Homo sapiens: one gene and its partners. The protein of the gene in region 3 interacts with the protein of the main gene of each other region in a biochemical or structural test. Each region holds a gene or a part of one and is shown on either strand. Other genes may lie near its edges.

Region 1 (7,027 bases), on a different chromosome or scaffold from region 3:
CTGAACAATACAGTGAGACCCTGTCTCTACAAAAAAAAAAAAAAAATATATATATATAGATATATAAATACATACATTGTGAGAAACAGTAAAATGATTTTTTTAAAAAGAAAATGAAAATAACTTATACTTATCATATTGCCCAAGTAAAACAAGCATTTAGAAAAAAAAAAGTATGGTATATTTAAAAATGTTAGATCTATTGTTTTATGACAGTCAGTTTAACTTACCTTATAATTCATTTATAATTTAGAAACTGAGATGTTGAATAAGAACACACTGTTCTTGTTTTAATAGTATATATAATCTGAAGAAAAATGATTCTGAAAAAACAAAGTATATTAATAACATACTAACATTCAGAGTAAGAGACATATAGCAAGATTTTATAAATTATCTTTAATCATATAAAAGGCTGTTTAAAAAGATCTAATGGCAGATTAAAAAGAGAATTATGAATATTTTAAAAACAAAGGTACCACCCAAAGAAATACATAAAATTTATCAGAGGCAAACACTGCCAAACATAAGACACCACTTAAGCAAGAATACTGTTCCCTTGAAGGGGTGAAGAAGGCTTCTATTATTAGCAGAGATAACTGCCTGAAATTCTTTCCTTAATAACACCATACTAAAAATAAAAAGGTTCATCATATTTCAAAATAAACACATTGCTTTTCATACGCATTTCAATCACTTCAATAACAGATAAAAATAAAAGCCTGATTTAAGGTTTACATTTCTCTTATATTTGTAGTTGATAAATACACTAGGTAGATTTGCTCTCATTTTTATAACATATTTAATGCTTTAAGGGTCTTGTGCCAGCCACTTACTCATTATTTCTTAAAGGATTTGAGATTAGATCTTCCTGCTAGGTCAAATTAAATTATCTGCTTGGCTTCAAAAATTATTAATACTTCCTCTACAAAATATTTTCTCTATCATTTAGGAAACCACAGGAATCTCAGAAGAATAAATGGGGTGGTATTATTATTACAAAGCAGTACCAAATGCTTTCAAGAAAGCTAACATGGACCACAAGGTAAGTGGACATTTTGGGATGTTTTTACAAAAAGAAGCAAGATAAAGCATGGTTGTGTCAGCATGAAAAAGGGAGAAAGCTCATGGAACTGAGGTAATTACCTCAATATATGACCAAACTACAAAATCCTTTCTAATTTATATGGATATGTTAAGATAAAGTTTGGTAGAAAAGCATTTTTAGCTCAGAGTGTATTATCTGAACTGAAAATATATGTATAGCCTCATTTTGGTTCTACTACAAGTGGACCAGGACTTTAAAATGACCCATTCATACTAAATGCCATCTGCTGCCCACACTTTCCCCCTTCCCAGCTTATGCCTCTTTCCTCCAAGAGTTTCTATGATGGATACCATGGGATCTGGAATACATACATACATATATATGTATGTATACAAAATATATATAATGTGTTTGTGCCTTCCAAGTGATGCACAGAAGATGGTGAAAAGTGAGCAGCTTCTAGAGAATTACAGGTTTCTGAACACATTCATTTGCAGAAATAAGACCAGAGTAAAACAAGACAGGAGGTAGTGAATTCTTCCCTCTCTCTCATCAATAAATTTCTGGTCTCAGAACCAGATCACAGATTATTCTCATAGTTCAGCTAATTGTGGGTTTAAGTACATAATGGTGTCTACATACACAAAAGTACATAAGTACTTCTGAGTGCTTTTTCATCTATGTACATTTTCTCATGTACTTCTCACAACACTAGAAGAGAACATATGGTATTATTCCCATTTTTACAGATTGAGTTTGACCACATAGCTGGTTTATGACAAAACAAAGGTTCCACACCAGGTCTTCTAAGTTCAACATACTACAGAGAGTATTTATACTACATCAGGCTGCCTTTGTGGACATACTATGAAAATAGCTACCATTTATAACATTGTTTCCTATTTAAAATACCCTTTGAAAGTCAATCAACTGGCTACACCAAATGAACAAAATCCATTCAGATATTAAGGACACAATTCAAAAATCATATAAATTATATATATATTATATATATCTATATATATCAGCAAGAGAAACCTAAATAGCACGTATTTACCTAATTGTGAGAATAATTCAACTGATTTTAATTCAATCACTAATCTAGTATTTGAGAAGAAACATAATTTCATTATTTGGAACCAATATTTAACACTTGTTTAGAATTTGCATAATTTCAAAAGTAAAATCAATTTACTGTGAATGTGTGTACATTCACTTTTATTTAACTATTACTTCCATTTCATTCTTGTTTCATTCATCTTCCATATTTGGGAAAAAGCAAATTACATGACTTAGTCATACAGGATATTGTTTTTAATATAAACATTAATAAGTATCATAAAGCACAGATAAAGTAGTCATTAAGAGCTTTCTTCAACCTAGGCAACCACAAAATAGGGGCAGATTACTACAGCTCTATCTCAATGTTGGTGTGAGAACTGAAGGCATTTCAATGGAAAGTAAGTACTTTCTAACACAGGGTGCAGAATTTACCTACAATTGCCATGCATCTCACCATCTCCACAAGTGTCATCTATCTGTATAGCATTTTATCTTTTCCAAAGCCATTTTATATACCTCAACTCATTTGATCTTCATAACTATTCCAGAAGGTAGGCAGGACAAGTATGATCATTGCCATATTACGAAGGAGGAAACAAAGGCTCAGCATCTAATGGTTTTTCCCAAAGGTGAGACAACTGGTAGTAGAAATGGAATTAATTCCAGAGCTAATACCTTCTTATACCAATGTTTTCTTCTAGAACATCAAATCATTTGTACAAGTTCTCTTTAGTCTGGTTACTAAAGGTTACTGGCAATCACTAGTCAAGATTACCTTTATAGCCTGTAATCCCAGCACTTTGGGAGGCCGAGGCAGGTGGATCACAAGGTCAAGAGAGCAAGACCATCCTGGCTAACACGGTGAAACCCTGTCTCTACCAAAAATACAGAAAATTAGCCGGGTGAGGCCGGGCGCAATAGCTCACGCCTTTACTCCCAGCACTTTGGGAAGCTGAGGCGGGCGTATTACGAGGTCAGGAGATCGAGACCATCCTGGCCAACATGGTGAAACCCCATCTCTACTACAATACAAAAAATTAGCAGGGCGTGGTGGTGCACGCCTGTAGTCCCAGCTAGTCGGGAGGCCGAGGCAGTGGAATCGCTTGAACCCAGGAGGCAGAGGTTGTAGTGAGCCGAGATCGCGCCACTGCACTCCAGACTGGTGACAGAGCAAGATTCTGTCTCCAAAAAAAAAAAAAAAAAAAAAATTAGCCAGGCGTGGTGGCAGGCGCCTGTAGTCTCAGCTACTGGGGAGGCTGAGGCAAGAGAATGGCGTGAACCCAGGAGGCGGAGCTTGCAGTGAGCTGAGATAGCACCACTGCACTCCAGCCTGGGCGACAGAGCCAGACTAGTCTCAAAAAAAAAAAAAAGATTACTTTCATATCAGTAAACACACTGAAATCACTAGTATTTCTAATAAACATGGGTTAAAACTGGTAGAATTCAGCACATTTTATAATAAGAAATGAAAGATTGAGGCATCCAAGTAAATGTTGGAAAAGTAAAAATATAAATTTTAATCATCTATATATGGCATTTCAAAAAACGTTATTTATCTCTAAATATGGACTGAAAGACATTTAAATCTTATTTTCTCAATTCTGATAAATATGAGCAGACATAGAAAATTATATCCTTGTAGGTTTGAAACTCAGAACATACTAGGCATTTTGACTTTACAGTCCATAGAGCAGAGACTTTGCAGTCTGAGAACCCTGAATTTGATTGCTAGCTCTACCACTTAATAGCACTGGAACTTTGGACAAGTTACTTAAAGTATCTGATTCTCAATTTCTTCATTTGTTAAATGGAGATAATACCAAACTTAGAGGATTACTCTGGGAATAAAAAAAAATCAAGTGCATATATCATACAGTGATTAGAATATAGTAACAACTTAATCAAATTGTACCTTTTATCACTGAAGTATTGAAAATATGTTTCCTTTTCCCCTGTTCTACATTACATCTACATTTCAGACTCAGGAACTCAAATTTTCATTAACCAGGATGAATAATTAAATATACCCATTTTTTTGGAGTTAAATCTTTTAAAAATCGGTTTAATGATAGCATTGTAAAGGACCTCACAGATTCGCTACTCCAGTGTTATCCTTTAGGAGGGGAAGAAAACAAGGCCCAGGGAGTTAAATTGTTCAGGGCTTCCACACTAGCACACAAGTCAAGCAAGGGACCAAAATACCACAGACATAACTTTTAGCTCCATCAATTGATGGGACAGTTGTGTGAAATTTGATTTATCATTTAGGACTTGATATTTACATTTCAAAATAAGGTAACACTTTTTGTTTGTTTGTTTAAGTTTTGGTTTATCCTTCCTGTTATCTCAAAAACAAGTGGGGAATTAGTAAAATATTTACTTAATTTATTGAAAGCAGTCTGTAGGCCAGTCATGTAACTATTTGAAAAATGGAAAGGGTAACTTCTTCGTGAGACTTTGCCGACAAGAAAGAACCTAAGTATCCCTTGGTGTACAATTCCAATGAAGAATATTTATTTCATAAACCACATATGGGTAAACATATTTCTGGAGTAAAATGTTGAAAAAAATTTGTTTAAATCATAAACCACATATATACTACTACTCATCTTGAAAATGCAGGCTTCTTTTTAAATAAATAATTAGCACTATAATTTTGTTTCTTCAATCAGTCTTTATATAACACAAACAACAGGACCATTCTTCTAGAATTTCTATCACCTTTAGAGAAGTTAGATAAGAAATGAACAAGTCTAATTACAAGAACTCTCTAACAGTTTTACCCTACCCAGAGTGAGAGCCTAAACAGTCAATATAGAGAAAAATTTTAAATAGATAAAAAGCATTACTTTTAAACTCTGTCAGCCCATATAATCTGTTTCCAAAAACAGTCCCTCAGCAACCTGATAATACAATAGACTAATGAAGGACAAAATTTAAAACATTTTAAATAAGGCTTTATTAACAAATACAAAGATTTCCATATACTTTTAAAAAACAAATTAAAACTACTGCTGTTAAAACTATTCCATTTTCAATTTTTGCTTTTTGTCCCTAACTTTGGTCCATAAATTGATATATCAACAACTGAAGTTAAAATTTCTTTATTTCTTTTTTTTTTTAAGACGGAGTCTCGCTCTGTCACCCAGGCTGGAGTGCAGTGGCACAATCTCGGCCCACTGCAACTTCCGCCTCCCGGGTCCAAGTGATTCTCCTGCCTCAGCTTCCCAAGTAGCTGGGATTACAGGCGCGCACCATCACAGCTGGCTAATTTTTGTATTTTTAGTAGAGATGAGGTTTCACCATGTTAGCCAGGTTGTTCTCAAACTCCTGACCTCAAGTGATCCACCTACCTCGGCCTCCCAAAGTGCTGGGATTACAGGCGTGAGCCGCCGTGCCTGGCCTAAAATTTCTAAATCTATAATTAGCATAACAGTCAAAGTTGGGCATGGTGGGACACATTTGTAATCCCAACACTGTGAGGCTGAGGCAGATAGACTGCTTAAGGCCACAAGTTTGAGAACAGCCTGGTCAACATAGTCCCTAAAAAAAACTAATTAATAAACAAATAAGAAAAAGGAAAAAAGTCAAGAGAGAAAGCACATAAAATGTTCCTTACTTCTCCATTTCCATGTTTTTATAACCATTTATCTAACTATCTATCTATCTATCTATCTTTCTATCAATCAATCAATCAATCAAAGACAGGGTCTCCCTATGCTGCCCAGGCTGGTCTTGAACCCCTGGGCTCAAGGGATCCTCCTGCCTTGGTCACCCAAAGTGCTAGGATTACAGGCATGGACCACCACACCTGGCCAAGCTTTTAAAATTACATCATCTCCTATTAGCTTTTTTAGTAGAAATTCATTTTGCAATGTCTAAAATCTACAACAATTAAAAATGCACCTGCATTCAACAAAAACTGCTGAGACAATTGGTTATCCACATGGAAAAAGTTAACCTTACAACCTCATCTCACACCATACATAAGAATTAACTCAAAATAGATCACATAGTTAAACATCAGGGCTAAAATAATAAAATATTTACAAGAAAACATAAAAGAAAATCTTTGAGACTTGGGCTAGGCAAAGATTTCTTGCCTATGACATCAAGAGCATAGTCCATAAAATAATTTTAAAAACTAATAAATTGGACCTCATGAAAATTCAAAACTTTTATACTTCAAAAGACACAAGAAAATGAAAAGACACAACAGACTGGAAGAAAATATTTGCAAAATATATCCATTAAAGGATCTGTATCCACAATTTACAAAGAATCCTCACAACTCAACTTATAAGATGACAAGTAACCCAATTAGAAAATAAGCAAGAGATATAAACAGACATTCCATCAATGAAAATACATAAATGACTAGTAATTACGTGAGACAATGTTCAACATCATTAGTCCTTAGGGAAACGCAAAATTAATGCCTCAATGAGATACTATTTCGCACCCACTAGAATGGCTATAATAAATCAGGCAGACAATAACAAATGTTGGCAAAGATACTCAGAAAAGGGAACTTTCATACATCTTTGATGGGAATGTTATAAAATGGTGTGACCATTTTGGGAAAGTGTTGCAGTTTCTCAAAAAGTAAAACATAAAACTACGATATGACCCAGCAATTCTACTTCTAGTTATTTACCCAAGGTGTATGAAAACATATGTCCACACAAAGACTTACATGTGAATATTCGTAGTGCCATTATTTATAATAGCCCAAAACTTGAAACCATGACCATCAACTGGTTTTGTATAGACAAAATGTGGCATATCCACACAATGGAATATTATTCAACTATAAAAAGGAACAAATTAATGGCACATGCTATGTCATGCATGAATCTCAAAAGCATTGTTAAAGAAGCTCGACACAAAAGATGACATATTGAACGATCACGTTTA
Region 2 (5,982 bases), on a different chromosome or scaffold from region 3:
ATTGGCTTCATCATCAGAAAACTGGCCTGATCCCTCCAGAGGCGGGGTGGGGGGAGAGGTGAGCCCTTGTTCCTCGGCCCCCAGGCTTGAGGGGCAGGGATTGCAACGGAGCCCAAGCAGCTGGTCCAGGGAGGAGGGGACCACGAACTCCTGACCCAGGGGGGCGAGGACCTGCCACAAATAGGGAATTTAAACACTCACTGGGCACAGTGGCTCACGCCCGTTAAGTCCAGCACTTTGGGAGGCCAAGGTGGCCTGACTGCTTGAGCCCAGGAGTTTGAGACCAGCCTGAGTCACATAGTGAGACCCCCATCTCTACAAAAAATGCAAACAATTAGCTGGGTGTGGTGGCACACACCTATAATCCCAGCTACTCTGGAGGCTGAGGCAGGAGAATTGCTTGAACCTAGGAGGCAGAGGCTGCAGTGAGCTGAGATCACGCCACTGCATTCCAGCCTTGGTGACAGAGTGAGACTCTGGCTCAATAAAATAAAGTAAACACACTGAGATGCAAGAAAGAAATTGTTTTTATTGCATTGAGGACTTTTCCAGAAGCCTGGTGGACCCACGTCTCCCTCCAGCCCCAAAGGCAGTGCAAGCCTCTACTGATCCCCCACTTCAAGGTGGGTCTCCCCTCCTGCAGGGCCCATGGAGGAGGGGTAGGGTGGGCTGTAGGGGGCCCAGAAGGGAGGCCCTGGGGACAGAGGGAGTTCACTCCTGTTTAAGCTGGAGACCAGGGAGGGCCCAGCCTCACCTCTGGACAACACAGCAAGTCAGAGGCTGGGGTGTGGCAGGGGCTCACCTGTCACCTCTGGGGTGTGGCTTCTTCCCGGAACCGCACCAGAGGCCCCTGGAGCCCAGGGAGGGACCACGGAGGGCAGGTGTAACCCCTGGCCTGGAGCACAGCTCTCAGAGCCCTGAGGCTCCCGGGGACAGAAACAAGTAACAAAGTGAGACCACGAGAGAAAAAGAATCCACAGTTTCTACAAAAAGCCCCACCCTCCCCAAGCACCCTGGTCAGCTGGGGACCGCCTTGGCCTTCACCCTTTTGGGGGGTCTGTGGGGGGCAGGGCTGGTGGGCCGCTCCCGTTTGGGGCTGGCGGGCTCTGAGCCGTTGTGCTGGGCGCAGGGCTCCTGCTTGGGGCCGGCGGGGATAGAGCCGTTGATCCGGGTGGGAGATTCCTCCTTGGGCTCCAGCTTGGGGGTGGGCGGGCGGGGCAGGGGTGGCAGCGCCCTCTCCAGCACACGGGGGCCGTCCCAGGCGGGGATCTCCAGCCCCAGGTGCTTCATGAGCCGGGTCATGACCTCGTCAACGTAGCCATGGATGCGGAGGTCAGCATGGCGGTCCTGCCGAGGGGCGGGACGGGTCAGGCGTGGGGGACAGAGGGTGCATGGTGGCCCTGGGCAGGGGTAGGCTCAGACACCTACGTGCTTGGTGGGCTGCAGGTTGACGATGACCAGGCGGCCTCCCCGGCGCTTGGTAGCCAGCGGCAGGTTCCCGCTGGGCCGGATCTGCAGCGATGTACCCAGCGTGATGGACAGGTCGGCGTTCCTGGGGCCGGGGAGCGTGGGCTGAGCCTGATGCCCTGCTCCTGCCAACATCCCGAGCCAGCCCTGGGGGCCGGTTCACACCTAGGCCATCTGTGCTCACCGGGGCGGTCAAGGCCAGCCCCACTCCCGAGTCAGCCTTTGGGATCCCGCCCTGCCCTCCTCTGCGGTCCGTTGGCGGGGTCATTGATCTGGGCGGGCCCTTAGACACTTCCGGGGAGTATCACAGTGTGGTAAGAGCTTGGACACCTAGGGTGGGACCCTGGCTCGGTCACCTCCCGGCTGGGCAGCACTGGATAGAGGAGACACCTGGCGGAAGCCTTGGTTTCCTTGTGTAGCACCCACCCAGAGCCATGAGGTGACGAGTGTGTGTGAGTGCGTGTGTGCAGCCCCTGGCCTGGCCCACCTGCTCCAGGAAGCCTCCCCTCACTGCCTGTGAGCCTCAGCCACTGTCCCATGCTGGAGCTGGCTGTGTTTCTGCTGTCGTCCCGCCCCGCCCCACCATGGGCTCCCTGGGGGTGGGGGGTCAGACCTGCTGGCCTCATCGGCGAGTGCCAGGTCCCGGTCGGGCAGGGAGTCCTCCCAGTCTAGGATGGTGTCCCTCAGCTCTCCCCTGCAATGAGGAAGCTGAGGAGAGTCCTCAGGGGCCTCGCAGCCTCCCCTGGAGCCCAGGGCATGGGTGGGGGTGGCTCACCTGCAGGCTCGCAGCCCCCTTGCCTTAGCCACGGTGCAGAGCCGGCCCGTGGCCTTCAGGCCCATGGTGCCCACGACTGTGTCTCGGACGTACTGCCTGTGTCAGGGAGGAAGGGGGAGGATGGGACCAGGTGAGCTCCCATGGGTGACTCTCGCACTGTTTCTAGGGTGACGTTCTCCCAGGGAGGTGGGGGGTGGACAGGTGACCAGAACTAGCACCCAGCGACACGGAACGAGTAGCCTTCCATGAATAACGGGCTGGGATGCTGCTCGGTGCCCGGAGCACAGAAAACAAAGCAGGAAACTGTCCCAGACAGACGAAGGGGCTCGAGAGACAAGACCCAGCATGGGATCCCGGACCAGGAGAAACAGGAACAATTGGAGCATGGGGGCGACAGGCCGAGTCTGGATTCGGGATTAGAGAAGGCGATGTCCACTTTACTTTTCCTGACTTTAATCGTTATACTGGGCCGGGCGTGGTGGCTCACGCCTGTCATCCCAGCACTTTGGGAGGCTGAGGCGGGCAGATCACAAGGTCAGGAGTTCGACACCAGCCTGGCCAATATGGTGAAACCCCGTCTCTACTAAAAATACAAATATTAGCCAGGTGTGGTGGCGGGCGCCTGCAGTTGCAGCTACTTGGATGGCTGAGGCAGAATAATTGCCTGAACCCGGGAGGCGGAGGTTGCAGTGAGCCGAGATTGCCCCACTGTACTCCAGCCTGGATGACAGAGCGGGACTGTCTCAAAAAAAAGGAGAAACACAGAGATAAGAAGGCCCCTGTGGCTGTAGGTCCAGGACCACCAAGGGTGGCTGGCTGCCACCAGCAGCCAGGAAAAGGCAGGAAAAATCCTCCCCTACAGGTTGCAGAGGGGCATGGCCCTGCAGACACCTGGATTTTGGACTTCTGGTCCCCAGAACTGTGAGATCACAAATTTCTATTGTTCTACGCTGCTCATCTGTGGCAGGTTGCTACAGCAGTGCCAGGACACGGATGTACCCCCCACAGGAGGGAGGCACGGCCCCCCCAAATCCCTCCAGGAGGAAGACATGCCCCCCAAATCCCTCCAGGAGGGAGACATACTCCTTATATCCCCCCAAGAGGGAGACACGCCCCCAGATCCCCCCAGGAGGGCCACACCCCAGTCCCCCCATACCCTCTGGGTCTCTGGGACATCGGATTCGACCCCCAACCCCCTCTGGCAGAGCCCCCACCCCTGCACCCAGGTGGCACTCACGTCTTACACTTGGCACATTCTTCCACAAACATGTTCCCGTGGAGCTCTGCCAGTTTGTCCCTGTGGGAAGAGCAGGAAGAGGCTTGATGGTGGGAAAGGATCCCTGGATGCCCAGGCTTTGGAGCTGGTGCTAAGCCCCTCTCCTCCAGGAAGGCTTCCCGGACTCCTCTCCCACAACATTGATCAACTCCTTCTTTCTGGCTCTTCTAGCTCCTGGCTCCACCATTCATCTGCTGTGCATCTCTGGGCAAGTGGACCAACCTCTCTGAGCCCAAGGAATCATTAACCCCCAAGGCTGAACCCACCTTAGATAACGGGAAGCCCTTTCCACTCACAAAATGCCCGTCCCCCTCCGAGAGCATATGGGAACCTCTTGATGTCACCAGGTCAGAAGCACAGGAATTCAAATTCCCAGTTTATAATGGAAGAAACCGAGACATTGAATGGCCCTGAAGCATGAGATCCAATCCCAGCTTTATTTTATTTATTTATTTATTTTGAGACAGAGTTTTGCTCTTGTTGCCCAGGTTGGAGTGCAATGGTGCAATCTCAGCTCACCACAACCTCAATGGCACAATCTCAGCTCACCACAACCTCTGCCTCCGGGGTTCAAGTGATTCTCCTGCCTCAGCCTCCTGAGTAGCTGGGACTACAGGCGCCCGCCACCACGCCGGGCTAATTTTTTGTATTTTTAGTAGAGACAGGGTTTCACCGTGTTAGCCAGGATGGTCTCGATCTCCTGAGCTTGTGATCCACCCGCCTCGGCCTCCCAAAGTGCCGGGATTACAGGCGTGAGCCACTGTACCCAGCCTAATTTTTCTGTTTTTAGTAGAGACGGGGTTTTACCATGTGGCCGGGATGGTCTCGATCTCCTGACCTCATGATCCGCCCGCCTTGGCCTCCCAAAGTGCTGAGATTCCAGGCATAAGTCACCACACCTGACCCTCCTTTGCTTTTTTTTTTTTCAAGACAGAGTCTTGCTCTGTCACCCAAGCTGGAGTGCAGTGGCGCCATCTCGGCTCACTGCAACCTCTGCCTCCCGGGTTCAAGCGATTCTCCTGACTCAGCCTCCCGAGTAGCTGGGATTACAGGCATGCGCCACCACGCCCAGCTAATTTTTGTACTCTTAGTAGAGATGGGGTTTCAACATGTTGGCCAGGCTGGTCTCGAACTCTTGACCTCGTGATCCGCCTGCCTCGGCCTCCCAAAGTGCTGGGATTACAGATGTGAGCCACCATGCCCGGCCCCTCGTTTGCTTTTATAAGCAGAGAAAAATCTCTTCCTCACCCCTCACCCCTGGCTGCCGAGCTCCTCGTCTCAACAACTGACCTGGCTGTCATTGGTTGCCCCAGGGGTGAGACCTGGCAAAGAGGGGCAGGGGAGGGCCACACTTTTATTGGGAAATCAGCCTGCCCCAGAGCACAGGTTCACTTCAGTGTCAGACACGTTTAGTGTCAGATTAATAAAGATGGATATTAAAAACACAACAGGCCAAGCGTGGTGGCTCACACCTGTAACCCCAGCACTTTGGGAGGCTGAGGCGGGCAGATCACCTGAGGTCAGGAGTTCAAGACCAGCCTGGCCAACATGGAGAAACCCCGTCTCTACTAAAAATACAAAATTAGCTGGGTGTGATGGCGCATGCCTGTAATCCCAGTTACTAGGGAGGCTGAGGCAGGAGAATCGCTTGAACCTGGGAGGCTGAGCGGAGATCACGCCATTGCACTCCAGCCTGGGCAACAAGAACGAAACTCGGTCTCAAAAACAACAACAACAACAAAAAACAAACTGCAACTTCTAGACCCTGACAGCTCTCCTCCCCTTAGCCCCATCTCGAGGGAAATTCTGCCTCTGGCCTCAGCCGGGACAGCTCTGAGCCATGGGACTCAGAGATCTCCACACACTGGGCCAAGAACTCAGGGCTAGAATCTTATAGAACCAGGAAAAGGGGACTCTCCCCCTAAAAATGCAAACACGGTTTGTGGGGCCCCAAGCTCTTTTGTGGGGGCGGGGCCAGGGTGTTACCTGGGGAAGCCTGAGCGCACATGGAGCCCGTCCACGTTCTGGCTGACCAGGAAGCGGAGGAGGCCCACGCGCTCCAGCTGCACCAGCGCCATGTGGGTCTGCGTGGGCCGCGCGCTCTCAAAGGTGGTGTCGAACTTGGGGGCCAGACCTCGCTCCTCCATGGTCCAGACTCCGTGGGGACCCCTGAAGGTGGCAGGCCGGGAGAGATGGACGGGGAGAGGGGAACAGAAAAAGAGACAGAGGGAGAATCAGAGAGGTATAGAGAGAAAGTTGGAGAGAGAGAAAATCAGGAGACAGAGAGAGACAGGGAGACAGAGAGAGGGAATCAGAAACAGAAATAGAGGGTGAGTTGCAAGAACAGGGAGAGGGGGATAGAACAAGACACAGACAGAGAGATAAAGAGTTAAAGACAAAGCAAGTCAGAGACAGAATTGGAGAGAGACAGAGAGAGGGAGAGGCAGAGAGAGAGAGATGAATT
Region 3 (7,424 bases):
TTTTTTGAGACGGGAGTCTTGCTCTGTCGCCCAGGCTGGAGTGCAGTGGCATGATCTCGGCTCACTGCAACCTCCGCCTCCCGGGTTCAAGCGATTCTCCTGCCTCAGCCTCCCAAGTACCTGGGACTACAGGCGAGCTTCACCACACTCGGCTAATTTTTGTATTTTTAGTAGAGACAGGGTCTCACTATATTGGTCAGGCTGATCTCGAACCCCTGACCTCAAGTGATCCACCCACCTGCGCCTCCCAAAGTGCTGGGATTACAGGCACGAGCCACCGCGCTGGCCTGTAAACATTTTTAAACTGTAACTTTTTCCACCTCCCATTATTCTCAGTGACAAATTTAACTTTAACAAGTCAATTTTAAAATAAGACCTTCAATTTGCAGTTGTTATTCCCAACATAAACAAGTAATATACATACCATGACGCTTAATATCTGATAAACAATCAGTATTTGCTGAATGAATGAATGGCCATTAAGGCTGCAAGACTCTTAGGACAGTAGGCAACCAAGTAAAACAAATTTATTAAAACGCTCAGAATGACTGGAGCAGGAACCAGTAACTAAATCCTGTCATACATGATTCCATTACTTGTTTGCATTACTATTCTTTTAAAATGAAAATTATGAGAAATCGGCCAGGCGCAGTAGTGGCTCACGCCTATAATCCCAGCACTTTGAGAGGCCGAGGCGGGTGGATCACCTGAGCTCAGGAGTTTGAGACCAGCCTGATCAACATGGTGAAACCCGTCTTTAATAAAAATACAAAAAATTAGCCAGGCATGGTGGTGGGCGCCTGTAATCCCAGCTACTTGGGAGGCTGAGGCAGGAGAATCGCTTGAACCCGGGAGGCAGAGGTTGCAGTGGGCCGAGATCATGCCACTGCACTCCAGCCTGGGCGACAGAGCAAGACTCCCGTCTCAAAAAAAAAAAAAAAAAAAAAAAAAAAAGAGCGAAACTCCATCTCAAAATAAATAAAAAAGTTTATAGGTTAATAACCACAGCACTCCAGCCTGGGCAACAAGAGCCAAATTCCAACTCAAAAAAAAAAAAAAAAAGAAGAAGAAAATTATGAGAAATCAAACTATTTCCTTTGCTACTTTCTCCATGCTAAAACTTAAAAGCATTTAAATCATACTTTAAAAGAATAAACCCAAAGTGTTGCTAACATTTACGTTCCGCCAACTTTTGCTACTCCAATTTTCTAAAGATGTGTATAACGCTTTAGACTGTTGTATAAAACGTAAATACTGGGACAATGAATGCAAACGAAATTACAATTAAGTTTACATATTATCCATCCCCATTAATTAACATTTCAATCAACCTTGAATTGTGATTGATGCTTATTAAATAAAGGAAGTGAGCTATGCCTAAAGATGCTTTCTTCATGTCAAAATCACAAGGAATATTACACATTAATTCATAATGAGCCTTTTACTTGTTCATACCAATTCTAATAAGCTAGTTAATTAGGATTTAAGTTGAGAAAAAAGCAAATATCAAATCTTTTTTTTTAACAGAAAGGTCTAAACAAAGCTAAATACACCAAATCTCTTAAAATCTTTGGGCTATACATTTGTAAAAATTATTCAACTACTGATCCCTTTTTTGGCGCAAAGACCTACACTACTTACAAAAGTAAATGAATAAGGGAACAAAACGTTAAAGGGGGAAATTCTGATGCAAACTAAACTACAGCTAATTTAACAAAATTGAAGCTTGTCGTAAGATCTAATTTTTTAAAAAGTTTTCGCATTTTAGATTCCACAACACGCATTCATTACAATAGTTCCGAAAATCATGTTTCAAAAGAGGTGTAGTCAGATTGACTTCATCTGCAGAAGGGCAACAAAACCCAATTGCTCATGAAGGGTTATGATTTTACTCGCAATCAGTTTCCCGAATGGCTACTTTGTTTCATTTCCCCATATTTAATACAAATACACAATGAGATGGTTTAAAAGTGTGCAACAATTTATAGGGACCAGATGTCAACAAATTAGCAGTCTAAAGCAAGGCTGACAAATAATACATCATGCCGATTTTTGTCCAGAATAATTATAATGGCGGAGGGGGGAGAAGATGTGAGAGAAGGGGTGGGAGAGGGGAATAAGAGCTTAACTCTACACGCACATCTCCCAAAAAGAGCTCTTTCTTTCCACCACGGGATTATTGTAAAGGGCCCCCAAGCTTTAGCTACTGTTCAGGCAGGGTGCGTTAGTTGTCAGCCTGGCTGGGATGGATTCGTGCAAGGGATGTCACTCAAACGCAAGTGAAAGTACGGTCCTTGCGACTTATTTCGAGTTTTCTTTGCAACAGCAGCCCAAGGCCGCTACTCTGCTACTTCTATCTAAAAAACAGAAAATCGGCAACCCCCGCATCATCAATCAAGCTGAGAAAGGAAGCTCTTGGGGCAAAGGGGCAACAGGGCACCCCCAAATCTCTGAGGCTCGCTCCAGGCAGAGGCAGCAACCTGAGCTGCTCTGGGGCCCCTGCGCTCCAGGGGACTCCCGGAGCCCCCGGGCCGCCTCCCCCGGCCGGCGCGGCGGGGAGGGCCCCACTCCACACCCCGGGCTCGCCCCGCGGTCCAGCCCCAGGGAGGTTAACCCCTTCGGCGCCCTCCACGCCCTCCCCAAGCGGGGCCCGGAGCCCCCGCCCTTCGACCTCCCCGGGACTAGGGGGTCCGGGTGGCTCAGGGGACGAAGGCGCGGCGGGCGCGGAGGCGGCGGGTGGCTCCGGCCTAGGCCCGGGCAGCGTGTCCCAGCGCCCTCCCCCACTCCCACACGCTCGCTCCGGGCAGGGCGCGGACGCCCGCCCGCCGCGGCGTCCGCCCGCCCGGGGCTCGGGCCCCTTCCGGCCGAAGGCGCAGACCGGCGGCTACCTGCGGGCTGTGGAGGGCCATGGCTGCCCGTTTCATTGGGACTCCGCGATCCTCCGGCTGCTCACGCTGCTTCCCCCGCCGCCGCCATCTTCTCGCCCGCACATACACACTCGCATCGGCCGCCGCGCCTGCGCACTGGCCGCGCGCCGCGGGGCGCGGGGAGGCCGGCCCGCTGCTGCGCCTGCGCGGCCGACAGGTGGGCGTGCGCCTGCCGGGCCGCGGACATCCCCTGCCCCGCCTGGAGCCTGCCGGACTCTGAGCCCCGCGACCCTCGGGCGGAAGCGGCCGGGCGGCTGCACACCAGGAGCCCGCCGAGGCCTGGCTGTGGATCCGGAAGGGGAGAGGGCAGGCAGGTAGAGGTGGCAACGCCAAGGCGCCGGCGGGCCCGGCTCCTCACCTACTGGGGGCCACCTGGGCCCCCGGAGCCCGGGAGTCGCGGGCTGAGGTCGGCCTGGGGCCCACGAGCCGCCCTCAGCGTACCTGGGCCCGGGCCTCGGGAGTGTTCGCATTAGATCCCCGAGGAGGGTCTGGTTTATGAAGATCCCGTTGCCGCGCATTCATTCATTTGTTCACTCTTCATTCACTCCCCAAGTCCTGCCTGGGCGCCTGGGCCACGCCTTTGGCTAGGCATTAGGGGAAAAAAGCAAAACAGACAAAAACAAAACGTAGGGCATAAAAGCACGCGTAAAGTGCTTGACATGAGGCCTGGCAAGTAGCAAACACTCAGCAAGTGCTACGTGTTGCACACGTGCGTGCGTGTGCACGGGCAAACCAGCCTTGGGGGTCGTTGGTTCATTCATTATTAAGAAACAGGGGCCCCTGCCTAACTGCACTGTTTTCCAGCCAGTGGGTCCACCCTTGGGTTTTGGCCCCTTTTCTAGCTGTGATTTCAGACAAGCGACTTTCCTTCCCTAAGCCTTGGTTTCCTCACCTGTGAATAAGACAAATATGTCATAACGCGTAAGATTTCTGTGAGGTTCAAATTAGATTAACGTGAGCACACTGGCCAAGAGAATAGTCAATAAAAATTGGCTACTGGGATTGTTATTAATAACCATTACTATTGGTTTCATTTATTCAACAAACACCTACAGAGAGTCTGCTCTTGCTAGACCGTACACTGAGCAGAGGAGATGAACAGGAAGATCCATTCCCACGTTACATAAAATAGGGAGCCTGGTCTCTTCATAAATGGGATGCCATGAAAAATATAAGTGGGCCAGGCGCAGCGGCTCACACCCGGAATCCCACACATTGGGAGGCCGAGGCGGGCGGATCACTTGAAGTCAGGAGTTGGAGACCAGCCTGGCTAATATGATGAAACCCCAACTCTACTAAAAATACAAAAATTGGTGGGATGTAGTGTGGCACACCAGGCGTCCCAGCTACTCAGGAGGCTGAGGTGGGAGGATCACTTGAACCCCGGAGACGGAGGTTGCGGTGAGCCGAGATCGTGCCACTGCACTCCAGCCTGGGTGACAGAGCGAGTCTCTGTCTCAAAAAAAAAAAAAGAAAGAAAGAAAGAAAGAAAAGAAAAGAAAAATATAAGTGGTAGGGAGGGGTTGTTCCAAAATAGAAGAGCTAGAAAACATAACCAAATACAATGTGTCATCTTGCTTGGATCCTGATATGTCTTTTAAGCTGGTTTTACTATTTGTTGACAATTGGAGACATTTGAATATGGATTGGATATGGGTGATCTTCGTGAATTATTGGTAATTTTATAGTGTAATAATTATACTGTGCTCACTGAGAGAATGTCCTTATTGTGAGGAGATGCATTCTGAAGAGTTGAGGAGTGAAGGCCATAATGCCTGTAAACTATTGTTTAATGGTTCAACAAAAGATAAAATCATGTACACACATAAACATTCAGGGAGAGACAGCAAATATGGCAAAATGTTTACTATTGTTGGCTCTAAGTAGTGCTATATATTTCAGCTTTTCTCTATGTTTGAAAATTTTTATAACAAAAAATTGGGGAAAACAATACAATATAGTGTCTGTGCTATAATTTTAACCATGGAAAAGCGATATCTGCACTTGGATAGAAACTGGGGGACGTGAAAACTCACTAGTGATTTATGGTTGTCTCTCTGGCTCGGTGCGGTGGCTCACACCTGTAATCTCAGCACTTTGGAAGGCTGAGGTGGGTGGATCACCTGAGGTCGGGAGTTCAAGACCAGCCTGATCAACATGGTGAAGCCCCGTCTCTACTAAAAATACAAAAATTAGTCGGGCGTGGTGGCAGGCGCCTGTAATCCCAGCTACTCAGGAGGCTGAGGCAGAAGAATCGCTTGAACCCGGGAGGCAGAGGTTGCAGTGAGCCGAGATGGCACCATTGCACTCCAGCCTGGACAACAAGAGTGAAACTCTGTCTCAAAAAAAAAAAAAAAAAAAAACATATATATATATATATATATATATATATATATATATATATATATATAGTTGTTTGTCTGATTTTTATCATACAGTTGCTTGAACAACAAATAAAAGTGATAATAAACAAAAGATCCCAGGCCAGGCACGGTGGCTCACGCCTGTAATCCCAGCACTTTGGGAGGCTGAGGCGGGTGGATCACCTGAGGTCAAAAGTTCGAGACTAGCCTGGCCAACATGGTGAAACCCCGTCTCTACTAAAAATACAAAAATTAGCTGGGCATGGTGGCGGGCACCTGTAATCCCAGCTACCTGGGGGGCCTAGGCAGGAAAATTGCTTGAACCCGGGAGGCGGAGGTTGCAGTGAGCTGAGATCACACCATCTCACTCCAGCCTGGGGGACAAAAGTGAGACTTTGTCTCACAAATAAATAAATATATAAATAAATAAATAAAAAAGATCCCAGTCTTCATTTTCAAATAATTCACATAGATATGAACACATACCTTCAGTACAAGGAAATAGATGTTAAAAGGAAGCTATGAACAAGCACTATGGCCTTCAGTGCTTAGCAGAGCCTGGTGATATACTTCGGCTGTGTCCCCACCCAAATCTCATCTTGGATTGTAATAATCCCCACGTGTCAAGAGTGGGGCCACGTGGTGATAATTGAATCATTGGCGTGGTTTTCCCCATACTGTTCTCATGGTAGTGAGTAAGTCTCACAAGATCTAATGTTTGTGTGTGTGTGTGTGTGTGTGTGTGTGTGTGTGGTTTTTTTGGTTTGTTTGGTTGTTTTTTTGTTTTTGTTTTTGTTTTTGTTTTTGAGACAGTCTTGCTCTGTCGCCCAGGCTGGAGTGCAGTGGCAGGATCTCAGCTCACCGTAACCTCCGCCTTCTGGGTTCAAGTGATTCTCCTGCCTCAGCTTCTGGAGTAGCTGGGACTACAGGCATGTGACACCACGCCCGGCTAATTTTCGTATTTTTAGTAGAGATGGGGTTTCACCATGATGGCCAGGCTGGTCTTGAACTCCTGACCTCAAGTGATCTGCCCACGTCAGCCTCCCAAAGTGCTGGGAATACAGGCGTGAGCCACCACGCCCAGCCTCTAATGGTTTTACAAATGAGAGTTCCCCTGCACAAGCTCTCTTGCCTGCCGCCATGTTAAGCGTGACTTTGCTCCTCATTTGCCTTCCGCCATGATTGTGAGGCCTCCCTTGCCATGTGGAACTGTGAGTCAATTAAACCTCTTTGCTTTATAAATTACCTAGCTTGGGTATGTATGTCTTTATTAGCAGCATGACAACCGACTAATACACCTGGTATCTCCCATGAGTCTGGGGACAGTGGCCTAGGCCTGGAGTCAAGACAGGCCCAAGTTCAAATCTGGAATCCCCCACTCACTAGCTGTGTGAACCTGGGCAAGTTACCTACATTTTCTGTGAATCTTTTGTAGAAGGTGGTGTGATGGGCAGAATAATGCCCCTCCCCTCAAAGATGTCCATGCCCCAACCTCAGAACCTGTGGATATATTACTTTACATGGTAAAAGGAACATTGCAAATGTGGTAATGTTAAAGGCTTTGAGATGGATTATCCTGGGAAATAACCTAATTATGACATGACTGGTGGGTCCCAAGTAATCACAAGGGTCCTTATGAGGGAAAGAAGGAGGGGCAAGAGAGTCAGGTCACAAGGAGATGTGAAAATAGAAGCAGAAAGAGAGAGGGAGAGATTTGAAGATGCTGCGCTGCTGGTGCCACGAGCCAAGGAATGTGGGTGGCCTCTAGGAGCTGGAAAAGGGCAAACATTTTCTGCTAGTGCTGCCAGAAGGAACATAGCCTTGCTTACAGCTTGATTTAGCCCCGTGAGTCTTCTGAGCTACAGAACTTTAAAACAAAAAACTTGTGTTGATTTAAGCCGGTAAATTTTGTTCCAGCAACAATAGGAAACTATGACAGGGGAAGCAACACTACCTGTTCTATAAGCCTGTTGCTAGGAGGAGATGAAGTAATGGAGCTAGCACATGGAGTGTGCTGCCTGGTGCTTTTATTTTTTTATTTTTTTGAGACGGAATTTCACTTTGTCGCCCAGGCTGGAGTACAGTGGCATGATCTCAGCTCGCTGCAACCTCCGCCTCCAGGGTTCAAACGATT
Region 4 (7,027 bases), on a different chromosome or scaffold from region 3:
GTGGGAGCAGCCATGGATCAGGGCAAGGGGTGGCAGGATGGCTCATGCAGAACAGCTCACACCAGCCGAGAGGCCTGGCCATCCCGGAGGCTTGGGAAGAGAGGGGACAAGGACAAAGCCACCCCTGGGAGGCTGCCTGACCTGGGTGGGGGAAGCAGAGGATAGCAGGTGGTGATGGTCTGTAAAGGCAGTTGCAGCAGGACTCTCCACGGAACTCGGAATGCACATGCCAAGCCCCACAGCTGGCAAAAGTCAGGGTGATTCTGATGTACAGCTCCCCCACCACAATCTAATACCACAGAATCTCATGGGACCTGTGTCTACAAACGTACTGAAACCTAAGCGCCCTCTGCCTCTGTGGTCTACAGCAACTCCTGAAAGGCATCCCGTGGCCAGGTGACACTGCAAAGCAGACAGGTGCTTGGAGCAGTTTGGGGATGACAAAAGTACTAAGATGACGTCTCCCAGCCTCTAACTGCTCATGTGTCTTGTGGCTGTCCCAGGGCACTGAGGGCTGACTGGGCACCAGCGTCATGTGGAATAGTTTGGGAAGTAGGAAAGAGACATGCTGGCCTGAGAGGTCCAGATGGACAACTATATATTTCTGAGGGGGAGCACTGACATCTGGAGTTGAGTCCAGGCCACTGGATGATGAAGACCTTACTTCCTCTGGGGACTGAGAAGTTTTCATGATTCACTGGGAACTGGAGATCTCTGCGGTAAGACAGTGCCTAAAGGTTCCCCTGCCAACAGCTGATGCAGCCCTTCACTGTCCCTCTCCCACTGCCCTATAGGCCCTGGCTGTTCCCTACAGTCCCTTTGGCAGAGCGCAAAAATGGCCCTACTTATCTCGCTCATCTCCACCCAGCCCCACTGCACTGTGCCTGTCAGTCCTCCCGTCTAGGGAGGGAGTCTATTTCCCTACTCCTTGAATCTAGGCTGGCCTTATAACTTGCTTTTGCCCACAGAATGGAGCACAGGGGACACTGTGCCAGTTTTGAGCCCTCTCTGAGAACTCTGCCCAGCTGCCATGATGGGTTTGTGTGCTGGAGGATGAGAGACTACATAGAAGAGAACCAAGGTGCTCAGCAAACAGCCAGAGGCAGAACTTATGTATATACCGGTGAGTACTTGAGAGGAAATTCAGCCAAGACCAGAAGAAATGCCCATGTAGGTAGCCCAAATGCCTGACCCACAGGATCATATGCTAAATAAATGGCTGTATTTTAAGCTACTAAAAAAAAAATTTGGAAAACTGGAGTGGACTATTTGTTACACAGCAAATGCTAACTGATACACCCACTAAGGAACTGGTTTGCTTCCTGGGTTGAACTCCCTTTATTCCCACCTTGTCTCCTGTTCAAGGAAGCCAGATGGGGCAACTCTAATTCTTACCCTCACTTGAGAGATCAGAAGGACCCTATAATTCCAGATTCCATGCATACCTGCTGTGTGGGTACTGCCCAGTTCTGTGTCCTGCTCCTGATGCCCGCTGGAGGTCAGAGGGCTGAGGGCTGCCAGGTCAGAGGAGGACTCCAGGGGGCCACCATCTGGATTCCTTGGGATGGCTCTGGGGCTGAGCGTCTGCAGGGCTTGCTCTGAATTCTGCAATGAGGGAAAATATGAATAAGGCAGTTGCCTCTCCCAAGAGCTCACAAAGGGCAGCTTGTGCTCTTGGGGCATCTCCTATAGGCCTCAGCCCACACCATGGAGCACAGGAGCCAGGGGAGCCCTTGCCTGGGTTCTGGTAATTCCCAGACCCTCTGTCCACAGGTGTCCTTACGTCTACCTCACAGAAAACACACAGCATTGCCAGGTGCGGTGGCTCACGCCTGTAATCCCAGCACTTTGGGAGGCAAAGGTGGGCAGATCACCTGAGGTCAGGAGTTCGAGACCAGCCTGGCTGACACGGCAAAACCCCATCTCTACTAAAAATACAAAAATTAGCTGGGCGTGGTGGTGGGTGCCTGTAATCCCAGCTACTCAGGAGGCTGAGGCAGGAGAATGACCTGAACCCAGGAGGCAGAGGTTGCAGTGAGCCAAGATCACTCCACTGCACTCCAGCCTGGGTGACAGAATGAGACACTGTCACACACACACACACACACACACACAAAACTGTGGTCTCCCAGCTGGTTGCTGACAGAGGATTAGGGCTGCCACAGGGTGAAGACCTGGTCAGCAGCCTGGAAGCTGGTCTGGGGCAGATCCCCACTGAGGAAGCCCTAGGGTTCTGAGCAGAGATTAGGCGTGATTTATAGGGGACGGGAGAGGGTTTCTGGAAGGCTCAATGGGCAGAAGTGGGCAGATAGGAACACAAAAGTGGTGGCTCAAGGTAGACTATGAGGACAGACCTCTCCTGGGGACTCTGGCGCCTGGGTCTCCTGGACAGGCATGGGGTAACTTGGCTCCTTCTCTCTGCAGCTGTTGTAGGGGATGCTGTGGGCCGCAGCAGGTGTGGGGGGCCCTGGCCTCTCAGCAGGAAGTGACGGTGGCTCCAGTGGGTCTGGGGGACGGTCCGAGGTCCCTAGAGGACAAAGATGTAGTGATATCAAGAAGGAATCAGGGCTGGGCACAGTGGCTCATGCCTGTAATCTCAGCACTTTGGGAGGCCAAGGCAGGCAGATCACGAGGTCAGATCGAGACCACCCTGGCTAACACAGTGAAACCCCATCTCTACTAAAAATACAACATTATTATTAGCCGGGCATGGTGGCGGGCCCCTGTAGTCCCAGCTACTCAGGAGGCTGAGGCAGGAGAATGGCGTGAACCCGGGAGGCGGAGCTTGCAGTAAGCCAAGATCGCGCCACTGCACTCCAGCCTGGGCGACAGAGCGAGACTCCGTCTAAAAAAAAAAAGAAAGAAAAAAAAAGAAGGAATCAGGGGCTGGGCACGATGGCTCATGCCTGTAATCCCAGGATTTGGGGAGGCCAAGGCAGGTGGATTAGGAGGTCAGGAGTTCAAGACCAGCCTGGCCAACATAGTGAAACCCCGTCTCTACTAAAAATACAAAAATTAGCCAGGCGTGCTGGCAAGCACCTGTAATCCCAGCTACTCAGGAGGCTGAGGCAGAAGAATTGCTTGAACCTGGGAGACGGAGGTTGCAGTGAGCTGAGATCGCGCCACTGCACTCCAGCCTGGGCAACAGAGCAAGACTCCGTCTCGGGGGAAAAAAAGAAAAAGAAGCCAGACGTGGTGGCTCACGCCTGTAATCCCAGCACTTTGGGAGGCCGAAGTGGGTGGATCACCTGAGGTCGTGAGTTCGAGACCAGCCTGACCAACATGGAGAAACCCTGTCTCTACTAAAAATAACAAAATTAGCCAGGCGTGGAGGCGCATGCCTGTAATCCCAGCTACTCGAGAGGCTGAGGCAGGAGAATTGCTTGAACCTGGGAAGTGAAGGTTGCCATGACCTGAGATTGCACCATTGCACTCCAGCCTGGGCAACAAGAGCGAGACTCCGTCTCAAAAAAAAAAAAAAAAAATAGAAGGAATCAGGGACTATAGGGAGGCTGAGGAAGGAGAACCACTTGAACCCGGGAGGCAGAGGTTGTGGTGAGCCGAAGTCATGCCACTGCACTCCAGCCTGGGCGACTGAGCAAGACTCTGTCTCAAAAAAAAAGGAATTGGGGGTTCTCCTCATGATTAAAGAGGCTTGGGTGCTCTTGGGTACACCCCCCGCCCCACCCATAGGTCCAAAAGCTGTTCTGATGTGGGCCCACTCCTCAAGAGTGACAAGCAGGGCTGGGCTTGGTGGCTCACGCCTGTAATCCCAGCACTTTGGGAGGCCGAGGCGGGTGGATCACGAGGTCAGGAGATCGAGACCATCCTGGCTAACACGGTGAAACCCCATCTCTACTAAAAAATACAAAAAGTTAGCCGGGCATGGTTGCAGGCGCCTGTAGTCCCAGCTACTCGGGAGGCTGAGGCAGGAGAATGGCGTGAACCCGGGAGGCGGAGCTTGCAGTGAGCTGAGATGGCACCACTGCACTCCAGCCTGGGCGACAGAGCGAAACTCCATTTCAAAAAAAAAAGGAGTGACAAGCATCACTTGGCAAGGGGGCAGGAGTGGGAGGGTGAGAGCAGATGGAGGACAAGGTAGCAAGGGAGGAAGGGGAGTATGGGGGGGCCTCGTGGGTCTCTAGTCACCCACGCCGTGTCAGCAGTCACTCTTCTCTGTCCCCAGGCATCCTAGGACCCAGTGGCTTTCTCCTCCACATGACTATCATTGCTCACTGACCCCTGCCCTGATGCTGCCACCTGAGCCCCTCCCCTTTGCCCCCACCCCTCATCAGGCCCTACCACAGCCATTGTATTCAGGGGATCACTATTTTTGGGTTTTTTTTTTTTGGAGACGGAGTCTCACTCTGTCATCCAGGCTGGAGTGCAGTGGCGCAATCTCGGCTCACTGCAACCTCCACCTCCCCGGTTCAAGCAATTCTCCTGCCTCAGCCTCCCAAGTAGCTGGGATTACAGGCTTGCACCACCATGCGCAGCTAATTTTTTTGTATTTTTGGTACAGACAGGGTTTCACCATATTGGCCAGGCTGGTCTCGAACTCCTGACCTTGTGATCCGCCCGCCTCGGCCTCCCAAAGTGCTGGGATTACAGGCGTGAGCCACCGTGCCCAGCCAGGGATCACTATTAATCTCCACACATGAAGAGACATATTTAAAAAGAAGGAAGGAAAAAAAGGAAGGAAGAGAGGAAGGGAGGGAGGGAGGGAGGAAAAGCAAGGAAGGGAAAAAGGAGAGAAAAGCAAGCATGAGAGCCAGACGCGGTGGCTCACACCTATGATCCCAGCACTCTGGGAGGCCGATCGCTTCAGCCCAGGAGTTTGAGACCAGCCTGGGCAACATAGTGAGATGTCATCTCTACAAAAAATTTAAAAATTAGCCAGGTGTAGTTGTCCATGCCTGTAGTCCCAGCTACTCTGGAGGCTGAGGTAGAAGGATCACTTGAGTCCAGGAGGTCAAGGCTGCAGTGAGCTATGATTGCACCACTGCACTGCAGCCTGGGTGGCGCAGCAAGACTCTGTCTCTAAAAGGAAAAAAAAAAAAGAGAGAGAAAGAAAAGAAAAACATGGATGTCCCACAGCTATAAATGTGACCAGGGTCTCGGGGGTTACCTCTAGTTTGAAATATAAATAGGGCTGGCTTGATTTTTTTTCCCATGTCTTTTTTTTTTTTTTTTTGAGATGGAATCCCACTCTGTCGCCCAGGCTGGAGTGCAGTGGCGCGATCTCAGCTCACTGCAACCTCTGCCTCCCTGGTTCAAGTGATTCTCCTGCCTCGGCCTCCTGAGTAGCTGGGACAACATGCCCGGCTAATTTTCTGTATTTTTAGTAGAGACGGGGTTTCACTGTTTTAGCCAGGGTGGTCTCCATCTCCTGACCTCATGATCCGCCTGCCTCGGCCTCCCAAAGTGCTGGGATTACAGGTGTGAAACACCGCGCCCAGCCTCCTCCCATGTCTTGATCTCACTCAGGATCAAACTCAATCTCATCAAATCGCCTCCGAGCACTCAGAGTGGCAGGGACACTGAGAGGGACTTAAAGAATAACTGGGCAGCTGATAGAGGGCGTCGAAGGCTCTCAGGGTAAACCAGGGGAGGGGAAGAGAAGGAGGAGAGAGGGAGGGTGAATGAGTAGGTGGGGGAGAAGAAATGAGGAAGGGTGGGAGGCGAATGCTACAGCCGTGAAAGTTAGGGGAGACTCCATGTGCTGGGCATACAGGAAGTGCCCAGCCCAGCTCAATACTCAACACGCATCGTCCCGCAGTATCACCCACTGCAGCTCCCCGCGGCAGATGCTGCCATGAGCTTCATTTTACAGAAGAGAGGCCTGAGGCTCAGGGAAATTAAGGGACTTGGCCAAAGGGACACAGCTGGTAAGTGGCTCAGCCTGGATCTACACCCAGGTTTATTCATCGCTTCACAGTGACAAGAAAGAGGATGACAGAGAAAGGCAGGAAGTACAGGGAGAGAGAAAAGGAGAGCGGAGGCCAGGGAGCAGGCTGGGGGTCCAGGAGGGCAAGGGCAGGACGCTCACGAGGCTGGTAGCTCTGGTAGACAGAGGCCACTTCGTCCGCGAGATCAACTAGCTCACAGCCCCTCAGTGCCGCAATGAAGTACTCCACCCAGCCGGGCCGCCGCTGAAGGGTATTGAAGAGATGCCAGAGGGTGTCCCGGTTCCCTGAGAGTGTGCAGGTGGCCCGCAGTCGATCCTGGAAGACACAATGCCACTGTCCTGCTCAAGCCAGGTGGCCCCTGCCACTTCCCCACCCAGAATGAAGCCACAGCGGGGGGAGGGGTGCCAAGAAAGCCACAAGGGCAAGGCAGCCACGTGAAACTGGATCGGAGCCCAGGACAGGGCCAGGTATGGAGTGAGGAAGAGCAATTAGCAGCCACATCAATAAAGGCAGCTGCCGGAAACTGGCAATTAACTATGTCCTGGGCTCTCCATTAAGGGCTTTGCATGTATCATCTTTATTTAATGCCATTATTATCTCCACTTTACTAATGAGGAAACTGAGGCTTAGCAGAAGCAAAGTACTGTAGCAAAGATCCTAAAACAGTGGGGCAGGAATCCAAACCCAGTTAATCTGATACAAAAGCCTTGGATTAATATGGCCCCCAGGGCAAAAAGAAAGGTTTGGATTAGGAGAGAAGGAAAAGGTAGATAGCAAAAGTATGATGAAAGGGGCAAAAGACGGAAAGAGAGGGGGCCGACAATAACAAACAAGGAAGCTGAGAATGCTGGGGAGATTGTGGGCAGATGACAGTGGCTGCAGAGTTTTTTTGTTTCTTTTTTTTTTTTTTTTTTCAGACGGAGTCCCACTCCGTCGCCCAGGCTGGAGTGCAGTGCCGTGATATCAGCTTACTGCAACCTCTGCCTCCTGAGTTCAAGCGATTCTCCTGCCTCAGCCTCCCGAGTAGCTGGGATTACAGGAGCCCACCACCACACCCGGCTAATTTTTTTGTATTTTTAGTAGAGACATGGTTTCGCCATGTTGGCCAGGCTGGTCTC

What was found.
Region 1: the proteins of USP10 (region 3) and PRKAA2 form a complex in vitro, tested with the Homo sapiens proteins (one study listed by BioGRID).
Region 2: the proteins of USP10 (region 3) and SIRT6 form a complex in vitro, tested with the Homo sapiens proteins (one study listed by BioGRID).
Region 4: of the proteins of USP10 (region 3) and MAVS, one has a biochemical effect on the other in vitro, tested with the Homo sapiens proteins (one study listed by BioGRID).

What each region holds. Positions count from the first base shown.
Region 1 is NC_000001.11:56,648,300-56,655,326, reverse strand, and holds part of PRKAA2 (5'-AMP-activated protein kinase catalytic subunit alpha-2), read right to left. Parts: intron 1-7,027. UniProt on the Homo sapiens protein: Catalytic subunit of AMP-activated protein kinase (AMPK), an energy sensor protein kinase that plays a key role in regulating cellular energy metabolism.
Region 2 is NC_000019.10:4,173,600-4,179,581, forward strand, and holds the end of SIRT6 (NAD-dependent protein deacylase sirtuin-6), read right to left. Parts: intron 5,688-5,982; coding exon 5,505-5,687; intron 3,540-5,504; coding exon 3,480-3,539; intron 2,339-3,479; coding exon 2,243-2,338; intron 2,162-2,242; coding exon 2,081-2,161; intron 1,553-2,080; coding exon 1,429-1,552; intron 1,348-1,428; coding exon 1,018-1,347; 3' UTR 510-1,017; downstream 1-509. UniProt on the Homo sapiens protein: NAD-dependent protein deacetylase, deacylase and mono-ADP-ribosyltransferase that plays an essential role in DNA damage repair, telomere maintenance, metabolic homeostasis, inflammation, tumorigenesis and aging.
Region 3 is NC_000016.10:84,695,576-84,702,999, reverse strand, and holds the start of USP10 (ubiquitin carboxyl-terminal hydrolase 10), read right to left. Parts: upstream 3,001-7,424; 5' UTR 2,925-3,000; coding exon of another isoform or gene 2,910-2,924; coding exon 2,889-2,909; intron 1-2,888. UniProt on the Homo sapiens protein: Hydrolase that can remove conjugated ubiquitin from target proteins such as p53/TP53, RPS2/us5, RPS3/us3, RPS10/eS10, BECN1, SNX3 and CFTR.
Region 4 is NC_000020.11:3,856,832-3,863,858, reverse strand, and holds part of MAVS (mitochondrial antiviral-signaling protein), read right to left. Parts: intron 6,225-7,027; coding exon 6,050-6,224; intron 5,041-6,049; exon of another isoform or gene 4,917-5,040; intron 2,528-4,916; coding exon 2,355-2,527; intron 1,606-2,354; coding exon 1,446-1,605; intron 1-1,445.